Regions from separate parts of the Homo sapiens genome. Here region 1 is linked to region 2. The links come from fine-mapping of genetic effects on gene expression. A gene starts in region 2. The other region holds a variant in brackets. All regions are shown on one strand. Distances are between the middles of the regions.

What was found.
Region 1: its variant is fine-mapped to the expression of CIAO1 in whole blood (TOPMed, PIP above 0.99).

What each region holds. Positions count from the first base shown.
Region 1 is chr2:96,421,762-96,433,008 of GRCh38, reverse strand. No RefSeq gene overlaps it. Among named protein-coding and RNA genes, the nearest start is that of NEURL3, 78 kb to the left of the region's middle. RefSeq lists enhancers at 4,354-5,553, 10,680-11,181. The variant G/A (reference allele first, on the strand shown) is at 5,026.
Region 2 is chr2:96,260,977-96,272,223 of GRCh38, reverse strand. CIAO1 (cytosolic iron-sulfur assembly component 1) reads right to left here and starts at 5,999. Exons shown (of 7, transcript NM_004804.3): 1 at 5,735-5,999; 2 at 4,755-4,903; 3 at 4,488-4,599; 4 at 4,300-4,388; 5 at 3,566-3,767; 6 at 2,869-2,956; 7 at 1-1,113. The coding sequence starts at 5,873. The coding sequence ends at 873. It overlaps TMEM127 (transmembrane protein 127), which reads left to right and starts at 6,227. Exons shown (of 4, transcript NM_017849.4): 1 at 6,227-6,355; 2 at 6,712-7,086. The coding sequence starts at 6,843. RefSeq lists enhancers at 3,611-4,810, 5,408-5,687, 5,918-6,107, 11,035-11,247, 10,758-11,247 and 1 more and silencers at 6,338-6,387, 6,398-6,607, 6,658-6,967.

The DNA of each region.
Region 1 (11,247 bases), 160 kb before region 2:
TTGGGAGGCTGAGACATGAGAAATGCCTGCACCCTGGAGGCAGAGATTGCAGTGAGCTGAGATTGCACCACTGCACTTCAGCCTTGGAAACAGCAAGACCCTTTCTCAAAAAACATAAATAAATAAAATAAAATAAAGAATACTCAATTCGAGTTTCCAAGCTCAAGAGGGATAAGAAAGGGAGAAAAAAATTTTGATTTCTTGTTTATAAAGGTACAACCTATTTTTTTTTGAGACAGGTTCTCACTCTGTCTCCCAGGCTGGAATGCAGTGGTGTGATCGTAGCTCACTGCAGCGTGGACTTCCCCAAGCCAGGTGATCCCCCACCTCAGCCTCCTGAGTAGCTGGAACTACAGGTATGCACCACCATACCCAGCTAATTTTTTTTTTTTTTTTTTTTTTTGGTAGAGATAGGGTTTTACCATGTTGCCTAGGCTGGTCTCAAACTCCTAGACTCAAGGGATTCACCTGCCTCAGCCTCCCAAAGTGCTGGGATTACAGGTGTGAGCTACCATGCCCAGCCAGTATAATCTCTTATATAGTTGTAAGTTACAGATAACTTAGAAGAAAATGGATAAAGCGTTCTTCATATCTGGAAAAAAGGAACATTAAAAACCTAGTGATGTTCCAAACAAAGATATGTTCATCCTCTCTATCAGTTCATTTAGTAATTCTCAAGTAATTAATTGTTCTGCTTGATCTTGAGTTAGCAGTTTTATGAACCTGTGAGCTTTTAAAGATATGACGGGAGTTTATTTGACAAGTTAACGAAAAAGCAAAGAAAAACCTCTTGCAGTGTGACTGTTTTTCCTTATTGGAAGCCCATTTGGATAACCTGGAAGTTAAACTCTATGAAAAAGTGTTTGAATGTAAATAGACATAGGAAGAGTGTGTTCAGGGTTATGAATATAGCAGGGCAATACACGAATTTTAGAAACAGCATAAAAAGTTTTTATTAAATTGCAAATTTTGACATATTAAGAAAAGCCAAGAGTACAAGATTAAGTTATATTAGAGGAGAATATTGCTTAATTTTGACCTTTAAGATGAAACTTCTTAGCATTAGGCCATTATAACAGTGAGAACTGAAAGAAAAAGTTACAGGACCTGACAAATACTGAAGGAGTTATTATCTTAAGACTTCTTCAGAGGAGAAAAAGCTGAAAGCAGCAAGATATAGCAAAAGTTGAACTTCTGAAATATAATTTTGAGAAGTTTTAAAAAGACATTTATAAAATTTATACTTTTAATTTATAAAATTAAAACTAAAATTTCTTGCAATTTTATTAAGAGTAGATTAATGTTATGGGATCTTTGGGGTGTTGCTTTTTCTGGCCAGAAACCTCTGTGGCTGGTGGCACCTTTGCCTGAGTTTTGTTTGGGCCTGTTGGGCTTGTTCCAGTCACTCGGCCTGGCAGGCTGCACTCGGCTCATGTTACTGGCCTGGGTCCCACGCCTGCCAAGGGCAAGTCAGGCATGGAACAGCAAGGGGTGTGTGAGTGAGAATGGGGTCCAGCCACTGCGCACAGTCAGACATGCCAGCTACTGCAACAGGATGGACAGTTCCAGGTGCCAGCATGGGGGCCAGCTCTCCGCGAGGCTACAGCTGGACCAGGTGTACTGCAGGCAACTTCCATGGTGGGCATCAGGGTACATGGTGGCACCCAGAAGCTTGGAGACACCAAGAACCATAGGGGCCCAAAGAGGGAGTCACAGCCCTGGCTCAGGGAGCTCCCAAGTCTGGGCTCCTCAAAGGGCCACAGCTCTTCTCTCCTTCTCTTTCCCCGTGATGTGGTGAGCAAGGGACATGTCTCAGGCCTGTTTGTGTTAATGCTCTTTTAGCCCCACCATTCAACAGGTCCCAAGTTCTTATCCTGTGACAAGGAAGAATGAGGTACACAGACAGGTGGAGGGTGAGCAAAACAAAGAGGAGCTTTATTGAGTGATAGAACAACTCAGTCTCCCACATGAGCAGGGGGCAGCTCCTTTCTGCAACCAGGCTGTCCCCACTAGTGTTCAGCTCCTGGCAGAGAGGGGACCCTGGAATAGGAAGTTCCTCTCTGCAGGCAGGTCATCCCATTGTCTCTGCAGCTCTCAGCAGAGAGGAGGCCCTGGAGTGGGTTGCTCCTCTCTGCAGGCAGATCATCCCGTCATCTCCCCAGCTCTCAGCAGAGAGGAGGCCCTGGAGTGGGTAGCTCCTCTCTGCAGCTGGTCATACTGATATCTGCCCAAGTTTGGCTGAGCCTGGGGATTTTATGGGCCTGCAGGGGAGGAAGTGCACAGCAGTTGGTCCATGGGTGGCCATGGGCAGGCCTGGAAAAGGCACTGTAAGTTCCCACTCCAGTCCGTGGGACTGGCAGCCTGGCCTCCAGCCTTCAGGCCCTCCCTGGACTGAAGGTGGGGCTTCATTGGGACTTGCCCCCTTCTGCCCAGGAGGCTGTCTGCCTCCTGCTGTGGTTCATGGTGCCCAGGCTGTTCATACCAAAGGCTGCCTGCAGGCCAGCGCTGCTGAGCTGGCCTCAGTCCTGCCTTGGCTTCCCTTCCATGCTCATCCGCACCCAAAATCTGGAGGGTTCTGAGGTAACAGGGGCCTGGTGTGTCAGCACTGCCCCAAGTGTGTGCACACCCAGCCAGGCTGCAACAATGCCCAGGCTCAGCCCCAACTTTGCTCCAAGATTGGAGCAGGCACTGACAGCAGGGAGAAGCCAGGCAGTGGGAGCAGGCACTTCCAAGCCTGCAAGGGCAGTGGGGGCCTTCTTGGGCCCCCAAGAGTGCAGGGATGCCTAGGTCCACAGGTGTAGTTTGGGCAGCTGCAGCTGTATCCCAGGGTCAGGGCTCTTGCTTGCTCCATGGAGTGGGAGCACAGGGATGTCTGGAACTGGAACTGTGTCTTGGGTGGCTGCAGCTGCATCCAAGGAGCTCCTGCTTCAACTCAGAAGGGGTAGGGCTCCTGCTTGTCCCCCACTTTACTGGCTTCATTGAGCATGAAGCCCCAGCCATGCCTCCCTGCTGCAGCTTGTGTGATGGCAGTGTCAACTCCAGATGGCCCACTGCTGCCATCATTAATACCTTAAGAAAATTTTGTTTCAATGTAGGGAACCAATGTTAGAACAACTATAACTTTTAAATAGCTTTTGGATTAGACAACAATTATTTTCCTTTAGTTAAGAAGTTAAGGTTTGTACTGCACATTGCTGTGTGAGTTCTGTGAAGGGGGAGCAAATGAGGAGGTGATCTACACACTGTAGAAGTTAGTCCCCCTTAGAGATTGCTTGGTTAGATTTCTTGCTAGGGTTTGTCTGAATAAGTGTGGGCTATTTTTAACCCTGGAGGTAAGACTATCTAGGTGAAGGTTATTGGTTAAAGATTTAGCTGGCATTCCTGGGAGAAATAGGGCTATTAGAGGGAAAGATGAATTCAGAAGTTGGGTAAATATTAAGCAGGCACCCATTTTGGAAAGTATATTTTTGTCCCAAAGGAGTTTGGGTTATTTAGATACTATAGGGACTGTTGGGAGAAAGGTCGTTGGTTCCTTAAGTAATATAAAGGGGTGTGAATTTTTTGGGGGAGGGAGCAGGTGCTGCTTGCCCTCATTACCTGACAGAATTTGGAGGAGAGTTGTTCAGGGAAGATTAGTACAGAGTAAGTAGCTTTTGAACTTAAAAGGGAAATTTATAATTTCACTTGCCACCTTCAGAGTTGCCCTTGGTTTTGTTGTGTTGATGGTGGTGTCTGATTTGGAAGCAGCTGGAGCAGAGAGCCCCTTCAGTTCAAGGCCACCAAGGGTTGGAATTCCATCCTGGAGGCACTTCAGCCCTCAAGGAAGCTTCATTTCCAGTGGCTGAGCTTGTGGCAGAGCCATGTAGAGCTTTTTCCCATTTATCCCATTGGGGTAGTTTGCCTTCCAGTGGCCTGGCAACTACCTGGAGAAGTTTCCTTAGAGCTATGGGGAGGGGCTGGGGCTTGTACAGCAGCCAACAGTTGAGCTTGCCTTTTGTCCCTGTATTTTTCTTTCTCCTTAGCCCTGTCCTCCTTATTCTGCTCTTGGTTACAAAAGACTGAGGAGACTAATTTGAGGATTTTCTGCAGAGGGGCCATGCTTTATTTCACAAGAAAATTAGACCTTCCTTTTTGAGGGTTTGGGGGTTGAATTTGTCCCAGTGCTTTGGAATGCAGCCTAGAAGTGAGTTTGAAGGAATAGATGGGTCCGACGGAAGGACTGGAAAATGAGCCACTCAGGGCTAACATCTCCTGGGGACATGAACCACACATTCTCTTGGGGCATCCCACTGAGGAAAAGGGTTTCACTCATGTCTGCTTAGGGACTTGGGTGCATTTTCTTTTTTTCTTTCTTTTTTTTTTTTGAGATGGAGTCTCGCCTTGTCACCCAGGCTGGAGTGCAATGGGGGGATCTCAGCTCACTGCAACCTCTACCTCCTGGGTTCAAGTGATTCTCCTGCCTCAGCCTCCCCAGTAGCTAGAGTTACAGGCATACGCCACCGCGCTCAGCTAATTTTTTGTATCTTTAGTAGAGATGGGGTTTCACCATGTTGGTCAGACTGGACTTGAACTCCTGACATCGTGATCTGCTTGCCTCGGCCTCCCAAAATGCTGAGATTACAGGTGTGAGCCACCTCGCCTGGCCTCAGGTGCACTTTCTAAAGGGGTGTCCCACCCATTAGAAAAGACCTCTTCATGCTGGTGCCTTATGCCAGATGGCCAGTCCAGGTATGCTGTTATGCTGGGTGATTAACCCAGGTATGAGGAAAAAGGGTAAAGGAACAACTTGGCTTGGTGCCAGTCCAGGAGAGGGGGTGGGTAAAGAAAGATGTACCATTCTGAGGCTGTCTGGGATCACCTGATTTAGCAACATCCAGAGCAAGATGACTGGGTGACTCCACAGGAGAATTTAGAGTGAGAAAGAGAGGATATGAGTCACCCAAAATGTGTGTGAAGTCACTCTGAATGAGCTACCGCTGCCAGTCATGTCATACATAGGGATTAGGGACCTTTGGCCAGAAAAGA[G/A]AGAAGAGGGAATTTTCCTCCATCACAGGCAAGGCAGCCAACCCTGTTCACCCTTTGGCCTTTAGGCAACACTGAGTAGCAGCCCCAGCTGGTTGCTGTTAGTTGCTAGAGGGATACTAGCAGCCGGCTGCTGGAAGACTGAAAAGAGAAAATAAACTTAGGTCCCTCACCTGATGGGTGGTGGCAGTTAGACACTTTCATATGGACACCTTTCAGTCCCACCAGAGTGTAACTTCGGCCAGAGACCTTCAGTTGTCTCCATGCTTAGACGCTGTCCACCGAGGGCCCTGGGTTGGGAAAGAGAGAGGGGAGAGGGTTTCCTGTAAGAAGAGAGAGTCTTCATATGGGCCACCCAAATGTCATGGATAGCAACTAGCTGGGGCTGGTGGTGTGGGTGGTAAAAGAATTTACCAAGACAATTGTCGGTACAGAAAGGCAAATTTTTTAGCGAAAATAGGAAAATACATTGCAAGAAAGCAACAGGCAGATCAGCAAGAGAGGAGCTGACTGCTGGGGATTTAATAGGATGGTGCTTGTGATGGAGAGGGCTGCGTGCAATACTGATAATACCAAGGTTGCAGTGAGCTAGCTTGCATTTTTCTGTCAGGCAAGGGTCTGGTGATAGCTGGGCACAGGCAGATTGTGAGTTATTTGTACAGGAGGACTGTGTGTCCTGGACCATGAAGAAGGACAGACGCATGGCTTATCTGCCTTTTCTTTTTGCTTTCTCCTGCTCCCACCAGCCTGATTCTTTTTCCCTTATTAGGACCCCACAGCTTATTCATGTCCCTAAATATAACACAGGAAAGGATAAGCATCCCTTCTTATGTGACAACATCTTTTCATGCATTAAACATATCAAATACACCAATTTATTTTTATATTTTCTCTTTTTACAAGATTAAAGAACCAATCCTTGAAGATTTTCAAGAAGCCCTCTGGGAAATCTCAAAGTCAGTTTGAGAACAAGATTTCATTTAGGATTTGATTTTTGGGAAGGCAAAATTGTCACACACACACACAAAAAAAACTTCAGCTCTTTTAAAAGTGACAAGTGTTGGTACTCTTAAATAATCAAGGACATGACAAAGATTAACATAAAGCACAGGAGATTCTTCTGAGAATATGTAAAATCTTGCTTTCCTAGACAGATTATTTAAAAGGTGAAGAAAAACCTTTTACAACCTCTTTCTAAGAAAACTTTGTTGTTTTAACAGAGAGAAAAACCAAATTTTAGTTTTGCACCAACGTACTTCTGATATTAGGGCTTAAAAAAACATAAATAAATCCATTCAAATCTTAGCCAGCTTGACCATACATAAAATTCCTTTTCCAAGATTCCTTTTCCACAACGCTTCTACATCCATTCAGGTCCCCTCACCTCCTGCCCCACATTTTCCTTTCTCATTCTGGAACAACTAGATGTTCTATTAATACATTAAAATAAAATTACCCTCTTTCTCTTAACAAAAAAACATACCTTCATCTTACTTTCTTTGCATACATACACATCCGATTTTCCTTGCATACTTTTCATATGCAGTTGTTTTCCTCCAGCTTTATTATTTTTAATAGTTTTAATTACATATATTAATTATAATTTTAACTATTAGTAACCTTTCTTTTACAGAGAAAACTAGGAAGCATACAATTGTGAACTGTCATCACATACCAGTATTCTATAGCAGATTAGCAAAATACTATACAAATACTAACAAGTGTTTTATGAATATACTATCTGACAATTTCTAGAGACATATACTGTTTCTTTATAGTAAAATTTTTCAATATGACAAAAAGAATGTTTACTAACAGATCCAAATGTATTTTATCTACCTATACCATGTAAAAAGAAAAACTCCAAAGTATATAAATTTAAACTTAATCTTAATGATATGATTTGGCTCTGTGTCCCCACCCAAATCTCATCTCAAATAGTAATCCCCACGTGTCGAGGGAGGGAGGTGATAGGATCATGGGGGTGATTTCCCCCATGCTGTTCTCATGATACTGAGTGAGTTATCATGAGATCTGATGGTTTTATAAGTGTTTGGAAGTTCCTCTTTCCCTCTTCTCCCTCCTGCCGCCTTGTGAAGAAGGTGCCTGCTTCCTTTTCCACCGTGATTTTAAGTTTCTTGAAGCTTCCCCAGCCATGTGGAACTCTGAGTCAATTAAACTTCTTTCCTTTATAAATTACCTAGTCTCAGGGAAGTTCTTTATAGCAGTGTGAAAATGGACTAATACACTTAGCCATGAATGTTTTGGTAGTTTATTGTACTTAGAAACAATGTAGACATTTAATGGATTTCTGTTACTTAATTTAACTTAGCATAACTCCAAGGTTGCAAGTTACCAAAAAGATTTTGAAAATTGTTTTCAGGTATTAAACAAAGCTAGCACCAAGTGTAGTGGCTCATGCCTATAATCCCAGCACTTTAGGAGGCTGAGGCAGCAGGATTGCCTGAGGCCAGGAGTTTGAGCCTGCAGTAGCCTGTGATCATGCTATTGCACTCCAGCCTGGGCAACAGAGCAAGATCCTACCAAAAAAAAAAAAAAGAAAGAAAGAAAAGAAAAGAAAGAAAGCTAGCCATCATCTCAAATTCTTCCTCTGTTAACTATTTTTACAGCACATGCATGTTAAACAAATATCATAAAAATAAAAACCTAAATTATTAAATACATAGAGCTTTTGCTTTACTATTGTGTTTGCTTTACTGTTGTGTTTGCTTTATTATTGTGTTTGCTTTACTATTGTGTTTGCTTTACTATTGTGTTTGATATAAGTGAAATAATGGACTTCAAGCAATTCACTTTTACTGCATCTTTACTCGTACATTTGTTCTCATATTATATTAACAATTTTCATATTCTTAAACATCCAGTAGATAAAATATTAGCTTATTTAACTAGTAAACCCAAGTTGAATAGAAATGTATGCTCATATTACATTTAATGCTGGAACTCAGAAGACACAACTGTTTTTATTAAGCCAATAATATTAAACTAATCTTACATATCAAAGATTTACCTAAGTCATATAAACTTGAAGAGCAATATAGTTCCTTTATTTCTGAGAGTTTTAGGAATATTTAAATTATATAAGTACTTATTTTTATTTTTATTTTTTTGACACAGTCTTGCTCTGTCACCCAGGCTGGAGTGCAATGGCACGATCTCGGCTCACTGCAACCTCCGCCTCGTAGGTTCAAGTGATTCTCCTGCCTCAGGCTCCTGAGTAGCTGGGAATACAGGTGCCCGCCACCACACCCGGCTAATTTTTTTGTATTTTTGGTAGAGACTGGACAGAGCTCTTTTATTAATTAATTTTGGCAACACCATGTGGAGATAGAAAACTATCACATGTACATCACATACATACATGGACAAATGCAAATAGAGATCTTACAGCTTTCCGTTCCTTTTTTTTTTTTTTTTTTTGAGATAATCTCGCTCTGTTGCCCAGGCTGGAGTGCAGGCCTGATCTTGGCTCAAGTGATTCTCATGCCTCAGCCTCCTGAATTGCTGGGATTACAGCCATGCACCACCACACTTTGCTACTTTTTGTATTTTTAGTAGAAACTGGGTCTCAGTTTGTTGGTCAGGCTGGTCTCAAACTCCTGGCCTCAAGTGATCTGCTCACCTCGGCTTCCCAAAGTGCTGGGATTACAGGCATGAGCCACTGCACAAGGCCCATTCTAAAATTTTAATACACTCTTATCTTTGATATTTGTATCTGAATTGTGTGTTGCTTTTGTGTATGTGTATGTGTTTGTGGGGGAGATTTTTAAGATTTCCTTCTGCCCTGTTATGTAATCCCTTGGAGCCTGTGGATCACATTTCAAGCATGTTACTAAGGAGATGCTGGGGGCTGCCTGAATGTCCTCACAGCCCACGTGAGTGGATAAAAATTTAATCTAATTCCAATCAGCTTTTTTCTTTTCAGCTTCAGGAAGTTGCTTTTGGGATAACATGAGTCCCCTGAGAGCCCCTGATTGGGGCAGGGGGACTGAAATGGCTGAGGGAGCCAAGGGCTGGGAAAGAGAAATGTCTGGTGGGGGTGGACAGAGGCAGGAGGGGGAGGAGTTTAAAGGGGACACATCAAAGGATTCAAGGGAGCTGAAGGGAAGATCAAAGGTGGTCGGAGGAGGAAGGAGGAGGAAATAATGGGAAGACGGAGGTCTTAGAGGGGCCGTTTTGGGGAGGTCTTAAGTTTCCCAGAAAGACCAATCAAGTTCTAAATTATCCTCAGCCAGCTCATGCACTAAGAAGATGGACAGAGCTGGTGGAGCATATAGTTAGCCAGGGTTCAAGAAGGAAGTTTCAGTGGACTGAAAGATTCCCGTGGGAGGAGCAGGGCCAAATAGAGAACAGAGAGCCTTCATGAAGAGCCAGGGAAGAATCTTCCAGCCCAGGATTTGGGGAGGGGATCCCCACTTGAAACAAAGTGAGGAAGAATTTACCAGCCCAGAGCCAGGCCTAGGAGTCAGAGAATGAATGAATCATCTCCACTGCAAACAAAGAGCGGGACTTCCAGTACAGCAGGCAGCTTCCAATCAAAGATGCTTGGGCCTAGCACTGTGGCTCATGTCTGTAATCCTAGCACTTCCAGAGGCTGAGGCAGGAGGATTGCTTAAGCCCAGGAGTTTGAGACCAGCCTGGGCCAATCCTATCTCTAAAAAATAAAATAAAGTTAGGTGTGTGTGGTGGCATGCACCTTGATATGGCTTGTCCCCACCCAAATCTCACCTTGAACTGTAATAATCCCCAAGTGTCAAGAACAGGGCCAGGTGGAGATAACTGACTCATAGGGCTGGTTCCCCCATACTGTCCTCATGGTAGTGAATAAGTCTCGCAAGATCTGATGGTTTTATAAATGGGAGTTCCCTTGCACAAGCTTTCTTGCCTGCTGCCATGTAAGACGTCTCTTTGCTCTTCCTTCATCTTCCACCACGATTGTGAGGCTTCCCCAGCCATGTGGAACTGTGAGTCCATTAAAAATCTTTCCTTTATAAATTACTTAGTCTCGGGTATGTCTTTATTAGCCACATGAGAACAGACTAATACACAGCTGTAGTTCCAGCTACTCAGGAGGCAGAAGTGGGAGGATCACTTGAGGCCAGGAAGTCAGGGCCACAGTGAGCTATGATTGCTCACTCCAGCCTAGGTGATAGAGCAAGAACCTGGTCTCTAAAAACAAAACAAAACAAAACAAACTTGACTGTAACCCAGCTTCTTACAGAGAGAGAATCTTGAGACTCTAATTCAGCTTTTAGCTTATACTCAGTCTTAAGAATAGAAATCTGTGCTCACACTAGACCGCCTCTCTAGATTCTTCTTCACTGGGCAGGGCCTCTCTGAAAGAAAGGCAGCAGCCCCAGTCAGGGGCTTATAGATAAAACTCCCATCTCATTGGGACAGAGCCACTGGGGGAAGGCATGGCTGTGGGCACAGCTTCAGCAGAATAAAACGTTCCTGCCTGCCGACTCTGAAGACAGCAGTGGATCCTGACAATAAGGGTTCTACCAGCACAGCACTTGAGCTCTGCTAAGGGACAGACTGCCTCCTTAAGTGGGTCCCTGACCCCCGTGCCTCCTGACTGAGAGAGACCTCCCAACAGGGGTTGACGAACACCTCATACAGGAGAGTTCCAGATGGCATCAGGCCAGTGCCCCTCTGGGACAGAGCTTCCAGAGGAAGGAGCAGGCAGCAATCTTTGCTGTTCTGCAGCCTCTGCTGGTGATACCCAGGCAAATAGGGTTTGGAGTGGACCTCTAGCAAACTGCAGCAGACCTGCAGAAGAGGGACCTGACTGTTAGAAGAAAAACTAACAAAAAGAAAGCAATAACATCAACATCAACAAAAAGAAGCCCCACACAGAAACCCCATCCAAAGGTCATTAGCCACAAATATCAAAGGTAGATGAATCCACAAATATGAGGAAAACCAGTGCAAAAATGCTGAAAATTCCAGAAACCAGAATGCCCCTTCTCCTTCAAATGATTGCAAGTCCTCTCCAGCAAGAACACAAAACTGGACAGAGAATGAGTTTGACAAATTGACAGAGGTAGACTGTGGGTAATAACAAACTCCTCTGAGCTAAAGGAGCATGTTGTAACTCAATGCAATGAAGCTAAGAACCTTGACAAAAGGTTACAGAAACTGCTAATTAGAATAACCAGTTTAGAAAAGAATATAAGTGACCTGATGGAGCTGAAAAACATA
Region 2 (11,247 bases):
TGAGTGAGTCTGAAACTGCCTGCTGATGGCAGTGTTTCTCAACTGGTTTAAATCGCCAGTCCCCTAGGAAGCCTTCTTCCTGATCACTCCCTGCCATGAAAATGGAATATCACAGACACACTATATGTGCTGTGGGCCTTAGGAGGGCCACAAACAACTGCTTGTGATTTTTTTTTATCCTTACTGAAGAACCAATTTGCATCCCTGTTGAGAATACAGGGCTTGTGGCCAGTAATAACTCTCCCTTTTAGGATTCCTGTCTTTCCCCATTTTTTTTCTATCCCCAGTTGCCATCACAGCGTAACGGTGCAGGGAGGTATATGAGGGTTGCTAAGGGAAAGCAGAGGTGCCCCTCACTCAAACCTACATTCAGAAAAAAATTTCCTTCATTATTGATTGGATGTCTTAAATGCAAAGACTTACACAGAAACTGGGAAGGGAGGACCTATTTCAGACAAGGATTCACCATGGAATTTTTATGAATATCCTTATAAAATAGGACTTGGGATGCAGATGGATTATTTCTTTAAGTCTTGCAACTTCAGAAAAGCCTGAGACACATACCCCCTCCTACTATATATAGTGATTATAAATAGTATATTTACCTCCAAAAAATTTAACACTGTGCCCTAATGCAAGAAAAATCTGTGGTATAACAATGTACTCATGTTCTGTAGCTCTTTACTGAAGGCCTCATGTCAAAGGCGGGGAAGGAAAGCAATTCTGTGGCTCTGCACTTCTACCCAAGTCTGAAGAGAAGTGAGCCAAGTTAAATGAAGGTCAAGGATGCTCCTCCTGGTCCTCTCAGGGGCTGGTAAAGTCTTATATGACGTTTTCTGGGGAGTCATTACTCTGTCCAAAGTCGAGGTAGCTCAGAGGCCTTCAGGCCGCTGATACTTCCAGAAGGCCACCTCCCCATCATCACTGCAGGAGGCCAGTAGCCCTGGCTCCTTGGGGTTCCAGGCCACACAGTTGACATCCTGGGAATGGGCCTGATGCAAGTGGGCTGTCAGGGAGAAGGTGGGCTGCTGTGGATCCGAGTTGGGATCCTCCTGAAACACGCGGATCGCGTCATCCCCACAAGCTGTGGCCAGAGCCCCTGTCAGCTGACACCTGGAAGGAAAGTGACATCAGTGGGTATACCTGACTAATTAGGCCAGAGAGACCTGTTCCATAGTTCCTGGCCTGTTCTCTTCCCTAACTTCAGGCCTCAGCTAAAAACCTCTTATTAAAATGTTTCCTTAACTAATAAGGAGTCACAAATATCACCCACTTATATCTTCAGATGCTGCAATCTAGTTCTTTCCCCTACTATGATTATCCTAAAAAACGACATGCAATTATGAACTGCACTTTCCTCACTTGGCATAAGCAGTTTCCCATGTCATAAAGTTGTTTTTTTTTTTTTTTTTTTGAGATGGAGTCTTGCTGTGTCGCCCAGGCTGGAGTGCAGTGGCACAATCTTGGCTGACTGCAACCTCCCCCTCCCAGGTTCAAGCGATTCTCCTGCCTCAGCCTCCTGAGTAGCTGGGACTACAGGCATGTGCCACCATGCCCGGCTAATTTTTGTATTTTCAGTAGAGACAGGGTTTTATCACATTGGACAGGCTGGTCTCAAACTCCAGACCTCAAGTGATCCACCTGCCTCAGCCTCCCAAAGTGCTGGGATTACAGGCCATGAGCCACTGGGCCCAGCCATCATAAAGTTTTTTTTTTTTTTCTTTAGATGGAGTCTTGCTCCATCACCAGGCTGGAGTGCAGTGGCGCAATCTCGGCTCACTGCAACCTCCGCCTCCCGGGTTCAAGCGATTCTCCTGCCTCAGCCTCTGAGTAGCTGGGATTGGGTGCGTGCCAACACGCCCAGCTAATTTTTGTATTTTTAGTAGAGACGGGGTTTCACCATGTTGGTCAGGCTGGTCTTGAACTCCTGACCTCATGATTCACTCACCTTGGCCTCCCAAAGTGTTGGGATTACAGGCGTGAGCCACAGCGCCTGGCCCCATCATAAAGTATTCTTAACCCCTTTCTTTAAACAGTGATACAACAAGCTGAGTTCTACCATAATTTACTTAAGTTCACTTTTGTTGAATAGGTGATTCCCAAATGTTTGCTAATATAAAGCAAGCTTAAGTGCTCAGTTTTTTTCACTGTTTTGGATTTCCTAGGGATCAATTCTCAGGGCCAGAACTACCCTCTAACCTACTCTCCTATATGAATGGTGCAGCTTTTCCAGCTTCCACAAGGCCAGAGTCAGTGTTACCTATAAAAACCCCAGCCACTGCCAGGTGCGGTGGCTCATGCCTGTAATCCCAGCACTTTGGGAGGCCAAGGTGGGCGGATCATGAGGTCAGGAGATCGAGACCATCCTGGCTAACGCGGTGAAACCCCGTCTCTACTAAAAATAAAAAATTAGCCAGGCATGGTGGCGGGCGCCTGTAATCCCAGCTACTTGGGAGGCTGAGGCAGGAGAATGGTGTGAACCCGGGAGACGGAGCTTGCAGTGAGATGAGATCACGCCACCGCACTCCAGCCTGGGCTGCAGAGTGAGACTCTGTCTCAAAAAACAAAAAAACAAAAAAAAACCCTCAGCCACGAATGCAGATTCAATAATAACTTCTGGACAGCACGAGCTGTGCGAACCTCTAGCGCTGGTGCTACCCTCACAGCCTGGGACTGTTCTCTGCTCCTGTGAATGCCAGCCCAGCCAGCTGTAAACCAGCATGGTAGAGTCAGGCCTGATAAGGAATGGGGGTGGCTGCCCTCAATTCCCAAGCACTCCCCCAGGGTTGCAGAGGACTGCATAGGGTATGCCTTCTCTAAAATCCCTGATTTATGGGGATGGGATGGGGTGGGGGGATGGAGTCTTACCAAGCAATGTCATAAATGGTCCTTGAGTGGAAGCCGGACAAAGTACAGATACATTTCCAACTGGGGTCAGAGCCGCTGCATGCCACCCCTGCAAGACAGACTTCTCTTGCCCTTAAACGTTCCTATGTCCTGGGCACCTCAAAGGAGAACCTAACTTACCTTCCCTCACCCTCATCTTCAACTGATTATGAGTCTGTGTCTCCGTTCGTGTCCCCATCCCTGCTTATCTGCCTTACACACTATAGCCAGACTGGCGTTTCTCAAGCAGAATTCCGAGGAAACATCCCTGTTCTGTTGCAGACTGTATGTAACTACTTTGCGTGCCTGTGAAGGCCACCCACCAGCCGACCCAACCCACTTTATTCCTCTCCAAACCCCAGACGTCCTATGCCCCATTTAAATGCATTACCACCCCTCAGTCTAAGCATTCCCGCCATTGTTATCTTTACTCACACTGTTGAGTTTTCACTTGAATTCTCACGTGAAATTCTCATGTTAAAATCCTACATACCCTTTTAAATTCAGATGAAACAACCCATTCTACAAAACTTTCCTGATTCTTCCAGCACTCTATCCAGAGCCCTCTTGTAGCACATCTTACCTTTTACCCCCATTTGCTCTGACTCATGTACGTGTCTTAGCAGACTGTGAACCCCTTGAGAGATGGGTCTTCTTTAGCTCTACTAATGGACCTCACCTTGTTCATTGCCTGGTAGATACTGACGCCAGATACGCACAGTACGGTCATCACTACAAGACGCCAGGCGCTGGCCACTCGGGTCAAAGGCCAAGCTCCACACAGTGGATTCATGGCCCTCAAGGGTGGCACAGCATACCCAGTCATCCTCTTCCTCCCGGTACAGCTTCACTGTGTCATCATAGCTGGCAGAAGCTAAGAGCTGGGGGAAGAGTGAAAGGAAACCCAACATGTGTCTGTGTGGCCCAGGAAGCAAAGGACAGGTCAGTTCCAGGTATCTGCTTTTATTTTATTTTATTATTTATTTGAGATGAAGTTTGCTGTTGTTGCCCAGGCTGGAGTGCAATAGCACGATCTCGGCTCACCGTAACCCCCGTCTCCTGGGTTCAAGTGATTCTCCTGCCTCAGCCTCCCGAATAGCTGGGATTACAGGCATGTGCCACCATGCCCGCTAATTTTGTATTTTTAGTAGAGACGGAGTTTCACCATGTTGGCCAGGCTGGTCTCGAACTCCTGACCTCAGATGATCCACCCACCATGGCCTCCCAAAGTGCTGAGATTATAGGTGTGAGCCACCACACCCAGCCGGATCTGTTTTTATAAAGGGACTAATGTTTTTTGTTCACAGATGGAACTCTCCGTAAAAGCTAGATTAAGGCTGAAAAGCAGAGGAAGGCTGGGCACAAGCCTGCACACCAGAGCCCTTCCCACAAGAGTCCCTGCTTGACTCTTACCTCCTGACTTGGGTGCCAAACCACATGCTTGACATCCTGTGTGTGGGAGTTGAGAACACTGACACATTCATACTCATCCTCTTCATCAACTGTGGGAGAGAAAAAGGGGACCCAAGAGCCGACCCTGTCAGGGACACAGAGGGGGCTGTCAGGTGGTTCCCAATCCACCTGGAGGGACCTGGCCTCACCTTCCCAGACCCAAACGCTCTTATCTCGGCTGCAAGTGGCCAGGAGGTTGCCAGATGGGGCCCAAGCCACTGACTTGACCTCATTTTCATGGCCCTCGAGAGTGGTTACACACTGTGAAAGGGGAAAGAAAATGAGAATTAACAGCAGCTAACACCCCTAAGCCCCTTCCCATGGGTACAGCCCAACTGGCGCAGGTTGGCTCAGGTTCCTGAACCAGCCCTGGGGAGGAAACAGGCAATAATTCTGGTCCCAACCAGCCTGGGTACCTCAAAGTCATCCTGGTTCTTCTTCCAAATGCAAGTGGTAGCATCAAAGCTGGCAGAGGCCAGGTAATTACCGCAGGGGGACCAGGCTACCTTCCGCACGGTGCGCTGGTGGCCTTCAGAAAGGACAGACTTGCAGATCCAGCTGTCACCTAAAGGCGGAGCGCAGGCCAGGCTCTGGAGCTGGGTGCAGCACCATGAAGCCATTCAATATCAGGGGCTAGCACTGGAATCAAGCTAGTGGGGGAAAGCTCAGGGAGTGTATTTCACAGCTTTTACAAAGATGCAAATGAATCTACTTCGTCTGGAAGCTTTTTTTTTTTTTTTTTTTTTTTTTTGAGACGGAGTTTTTGCTCTGATGCCCAGGCTGGGGTGCAATGGCACAATCTCGGCTCACTGCAATCTTCGCCTCCTGGGTTCAAGGGATTCTCCTGCCTCAGCCTCCCGAGTAGCTGGGATTACAGGTGCCCGCCACAACGCCCAGCTAATTTTGTAGTTTTAGTAGAGACGGGGTTTCACCATGTTGGCCAGGCTGGTCTTGACCTCTTGACCTCAGGTGATCTACCCGCCTCTGCTTCCCAAACTGCTAGGATTACAGGCGTGAGCCACCGCGCCCAACCTCTGGAGGCATCTTTCTAAAACAAATCTGATCTAAAATTGCTATTGGTTCCCCAATGCCCTCGGGATAAAATGTGACCATCCAGTCGCAAGTTACTCTGAAGGCCACTTTCCTAACACCTCTCTTTTCCCATTTTCCTGCCTCTGCAGCTAACACAATTCCCTTGACATTTCAGCTTGTCTGCTGACGTTTTTCCTCCCAACAGTCGCAGACTTCTTTGCCTGTAAAGCCCTTCTCGGCGTGGCTAACATCCCACTCTCCCTCCGCCAGGAACAGGTTCAGCCTCCCCTGCAGGCTGAGCGCCTGCACTACGCGCAGGCTGAGCCCTCAGCGCTGAGGGCCGCGCAACCAGGCTGGGCCTTACCCTCCGTGCCCCAGATGCGGATTCTCCGGTCGCCGCCGCACGAGGCCAGCAGGGTCCCCGCGGGGTTCCAGGCCAGGAACCAGCAGCGGGAGTCCGGGTGCGCCGGGACACGGCCCAGCAGCACCAGCGAGTCCTTCATGTCGGCCCGACGCAGGGGGAGGTGGGGGCGGGCAGAGTCCGCTGAGCAGACAGCGGGTCTCACCGCGCGCGTCTGCGTACCGCCCACTCCAGGCTTCCGCGGCCGACAGAGGCTCCCGCTTCCGCCGGAGGACCTGGGTCGCCCCGGAAACTCAACTGCCCACTGCTGCGGCCGCCATACCCTCTGGGAGTTGTAGTCGCTCCCCTCACCTCGGCAGGGAAAGCATCGCGGGACCGCCTCGAACTACCAGTCCCGTGAGGCCCTGCGCAGAGCCGGCGGCGCGCCCAGGCTGTGACGCGCGCGGGGGACGGGGCGGGGAGCCGGAGGAGGCGGAGGCAGAGGAGGAGGAAGCCGGAAGTGCATCGGCCCCGGGTCTGTCCGGGCGTTGCGGGATTGGGGCCTGGGAACGCTCGGCCCCCGGCAGCCGAGAAGCCCGTGACTGGGCTGAGCAGCACCATCCCAGCCCTGGGGCCTGCTGACTGGTGAGGAACAGTGGGCGGCGTGGGGAGGGTCTTTTCTGCGCACAGGTCGCACCCCAAACCGCCGGTCCCAGATCACGGGTCCCCGATCCCCGCGGCCCAGCCCGGTCCTCCGCCCCTCGGCATCCTCTGGCTGAGACCCTGACTCCGGGTCTTTGCTCTAGCAGTAGCCGATCCCCGATCCCTCCGCCCCCCACTCGAGTCTGCCCAGACCCCATCTGGCCCCTGGCCCTCTTCGGTTGTCGTCCCGCAGTCCCATTCCGGAGTCTCCTGTCTCCGCCCCCCGAATTCCCGCAGCCCTCCCCGTCTCCGTCAGCCCCGGGTCCCACCCCCCTATCCTCTGGTGTCAACCCTGACAGCCCAGTCCCGGCTTCACCTGCAGCGAACCCGGAGCGTTGCTATCCTCCACCGGACTGTCAGGCTCTGCGCGCCCCGCGGAGGTCGGCGGCGACCAGCAGCGACTGCGGAGCGACGGCGGGCGGCCCCGGGCATGTACGCCCCCGGAGGCGCAGGGCTGCCCGGCGGGCGCCGGCGGAGGAGCCCGGGAGGCAGCGCTCTGCCCAAGCAGCCGGAGCGTAGCCTGGCCTCGGCCCTGCCTGGCGCCCTGTCTATCACGGCGCTGTGCACTGCCCTCGCCGAGCCCGCCTGGTTGCACATCCACGGAGGCACCTGTTCGCGCCAGGAGCTGGGGGTCTCCGACGTGTTGGGCTATGTGCACCCGGACCTGCTGAAAGGTGAGGGTGCTGCGCGCTGGCCCTTAAAGCCTCGGTGGGGGACAGAATGTGTTCTGGCTGAAGCAGAGATAGCCAGGGACCAGACACTTGGTTGAAGGAAACGGCCCCATAACTGCCTGGTGTTCATGCCCACCAGGTGGCTCTGTTTGGGGTCCGGCCCCTCATTAATTCTGATGTTATTCAGCTAAGCACCTACTCCTCACAGCCATGTTAATCCGGACTGCTGCTATTTTAGGATTCTGCTGGAGGAAGGACGCTGTGTATCGAGAAAAGATAAGGGTGCTAGGTATCACAGTTAGCTGGCCTCTTCTAAGGATCCTGTGAAATACGGAAAAGCTTCTTTGGGGCAGACTGATTAATGGAGAAAAAGGAACTTTTAATATGACTAGGTTTTAAAAGATATCTTAGAGTTCTATGGTAATCGGATGCGTATTAGAGAAGAAGGGAATCTGTGGCATTTTAGGTAATCGGAAGACCGTTCCATTGCCACCCGCAGTACAACAGTCGGAATGTGGCTCTTGGAACCATTATAGGTGTGCCTGACAGAGGCAAGGTTGCTTTGTTCATCATCATGCTTTCCGGCCAGATAGACAGCAGACGATGGGAGGGTCCTATGGGCCCCATAGTTTATCCTGCCCATTCTTGTCTCCAGTAAAAATTGTGAAGTGTGAGGACAGGACTGGACTGTATCACCTGCTTTTTACCCTAACAATGATCAATGTACCCCAAACAGTCCTTAGTAACAGCATAGTTCATCAACCCCAAGGTCTTTTGAGCCATCTTGAAGGTCTTATATCCTCTCTGTGCTATCCTGTCTGTGCTATTCCCTGGCTGTGATGCATTCCAGATGTTTACTGCACCGCCTATCAGAAGCACTTCCTGTTAGATATCTGCGTGTTACCTCCTGAAGAATTCAGGCACTGGGATTTGGTGAAAAGGTCCAAGTTCCCCGCTGTGCATCGGACCATACTCTGCTTCTGCAGGTCTAGGCTGAAAAGCCTCATCCTTGTGGCCAAATGTTGCCTTTCTCTGAGTGTTCTCTTACTGTTTTGCATCTCTCTTGAGTTTTAGAAGCTGTAGGGTGATTTTGTAGAAGGTTGGGGACAACTGGTTGTTTCCAGATTTCACCTTAATGGTACTCTTTGCTGGGTTGGCTCATTAAAGCCAAAGTTATGCACACGACAGAGGCCTTATATGCAGCCTTTTCTCTGTCATGTTGCTAATGGCACAAAGAGCATTAAGCTTGAGTGAGTCTTGGTGGTTTTTCTTTTAGCACATTGCCCTGTACTTGCTTTCTTTGAAGCACACATACCACCTTCCCACCACTAGACCCATCAGATCTAGAAAGCTAGATCTCCGAAATCTAGCACTGCATGGGGTGTGCTTAGCTGTGGCTCAGAAAAATGAAGGATCTCCCCAAGGCTACCCAGTTTAGGGTGGCAGAGCTGGGACTACCCCACCTCTGTTGATGCCAATATAAAATGATGCCGTGTCATTTATAGTTTTTATCCTTTGTTTTACTTCAGCTGTCATAAGGAGCAATCTCATAATTATTTCACTTTGGTGTGCATCCTTGTCGAAGGCATGTTAAAAATAAAAGTAAATTTTTGAGCCGGGCGTGGTGGCAGGCATCTGTAATTCCAGCTACTTGGGAGGCTGAAGCAGGAGAATCGCTTGAACTTGGGAGGCCGAGGTTGCAGTGAGCTGAGATCGCGCCATTGCGCTCCAGCCTGGGCAACAAGAGCGAAACTCCATCTCAAAAAAAAAAAAAAAAAAAGAAAGGCCAGGAACTGGCTCACACTTCTGATCCCAGCACTTTGGGAGGCCGAGGCGGGTGGATTGCCTGAGGTCAAGAGTTGGAGACCAGCTTGGCTAACATGGTGAAAGAAACCCTGTCTCTACTAAAAATACAAAAATTAGCTGGGTGTGGTGGCACACGCCTGTAGTCCCAGATACTCTGAAGGCTGAGGCAGGCGAATCGCTTGAACCCAGGAAGTAGAGGAGTTGCAGTGAGCCCAAGATCACACCACTGCACTCCAGCCTGGGCAACAGAGCAGAGCAAGACTCCATCTCAAAAAAAAAAAAAAAAGTAAATTCTTGGTGCAGGTTCTTCTTTGTTCACATGTGTATTTACCCTTTCTAAGAAATTATTCGGGCCAGGCCAGGCATGGAGGCTCACACCTGTAATCCCAGTACTTTGGGAGGCCAAGGCGGATGGATCACCTGAGGTCAGGAGTTCAAGATCAGCCTGGCCAACATGGTGAAACCCCATCTCAACTAAAAATACAAAAATTAGCCAGGCCTAGTGGCTGGTGCCTCAACTACCCAGGAGGCTGAGGCAGGAGAATCGCTTGAACCTGGGAGGTGAGGTTGCAGTGAGCCCAGATCACACTACTGCACTCCAGCCTGGGCTACAGAGTGAGACTCCATCTCAAAAATTAAAAAGAAAGAAATTATTCAGGCTCCGTTTTGTCTTTTGCAAAGCATGTTTTCTTAACCTTTACATTACATTTGCTCACATATTTAGAGACCTTAACCTGTGTATAGTTTCTACTTGCTTGCCTGTGGCCATCTCCTAAGAGCAGTTTGTGCCCATTAATAGGAGAGTTGGCAGTGGTGCCTCATGAGCTATCACAGAAGAATCAGTAAGGAATCCGGAAGTCCTTGATTGCATCTTCTCTCCCTTTTCTTTGTACCTACTGGTTTTTTGGTACCCAGTGGGCCTTCAGACATGTAGTATCCTGTGTGACTGTGCTGATCCTCAGGGCCTAACAGATATCCTGACCTGAGAGCCTGGAGTATTCCACATCTCAAGAGGGAGCAGAGCTGTCAAGCACAGATGTGGTGCATATAGAGTTTTTTTTTTTTTTTTTTTAAATGAGACAGACTCTTGCTCTGTCACCCAGGCTGGAGTGCAGCGGCGCCATCTCAGCTCACTGCAACCTCCGCCTCCCGGGTTCAAGCAATTCTCCTGTCTCAGCCTCACGAGTAGTTGGAATTACAGGTGCTCCACCATGCCCAGCTAATTTTTGTACTTTTCGTAGAGATGAGGTTTCACCTTGTTGACCAGGCTGATCTCAAACTCCTGACCTCAGGTGATCCACCCACCTTGGCTTCCTAAAGTGCTGAGATTACAGGCATGAGCCACCGCTCCTGGCCACATGTAGATACTTCCAGAGGGAGAACAGACCCTGCCAGGTCTCTGCCGGTGATGGGAGTTGGGCAGCCAGCAGGCCCTGGAGCAGCCTTACCATTTCTCAGCCCCTGCCTGAGTGCCACATTTTGACATTATGCTAAGCACACCCCATGCCTGCTTTTTTCCTCCTAAACAGCATCTTTATTTGGTAGGTACTGTTTCAGCCCCACTTCAAAAGGTCCCAGCTCAGGGAAGCTAGGTAGTTTGCTCAGCTAATCTGAGTGGACATTGACTCCAAAGTCCATACTCTTACTGCAACACCTTAGTGAGCTCCGAGTTTATTTCCCATCAAAGCTGCCTGAGGCTTATCACTTTCCTATTCTAGTTGAGTTTTATCATAAGCCCAGCCAAAGCTGTGCTTTTTGTCATAACTTCATCGCCTCAGTGTTGAGGCTTTAGTTGGTGATCCCAGGGCAAAGCCACTCTCCCATTGTCATTCACAAAGCTTCAGAGGCTTTAGCCAATGAAAGCTGGCTCCAAAGAACCCATCCTGGGCTGGGTGTGGTGGTTCACTCCTGTAATCTCAGCACTTTGGGAGGCTGAAGCAGGAGGCCAGCAGGATCACTTGAGTCCAGGAGTTCAAGGCTGCAGTGAACTATCGTCGTGCCTCTGCACTCCAGCCTGGGTGACAGAGTGAGACCCTTCCTTTAAAAAAAAAAAAAAAAGACCTCATCCTGGGTTTTCTCCACTGCCCCTGCAAGCGGTGCCTGCTTCTCACACAGCTCTCAACCTGGCCCTGGGTGGAGATAGACTCACACCTCTAGACCCCAGAAAGAGGGGCCGCAGATAGTCATTTCTTCTGAGCCTTTCTGCCTCTCAAGTGTGGCCACCAAAGGGCACTGGCAACAGCCCCAGGAAGCATCTTTGGAGAATGAGGAAGTTGGGGAGTAGAAGTCAGGTGAATCACAATTGACAGCAGCCACTGGAAGATCAAGGGCCTTCCAGGGAGAGCCTGTGTGCCTGAT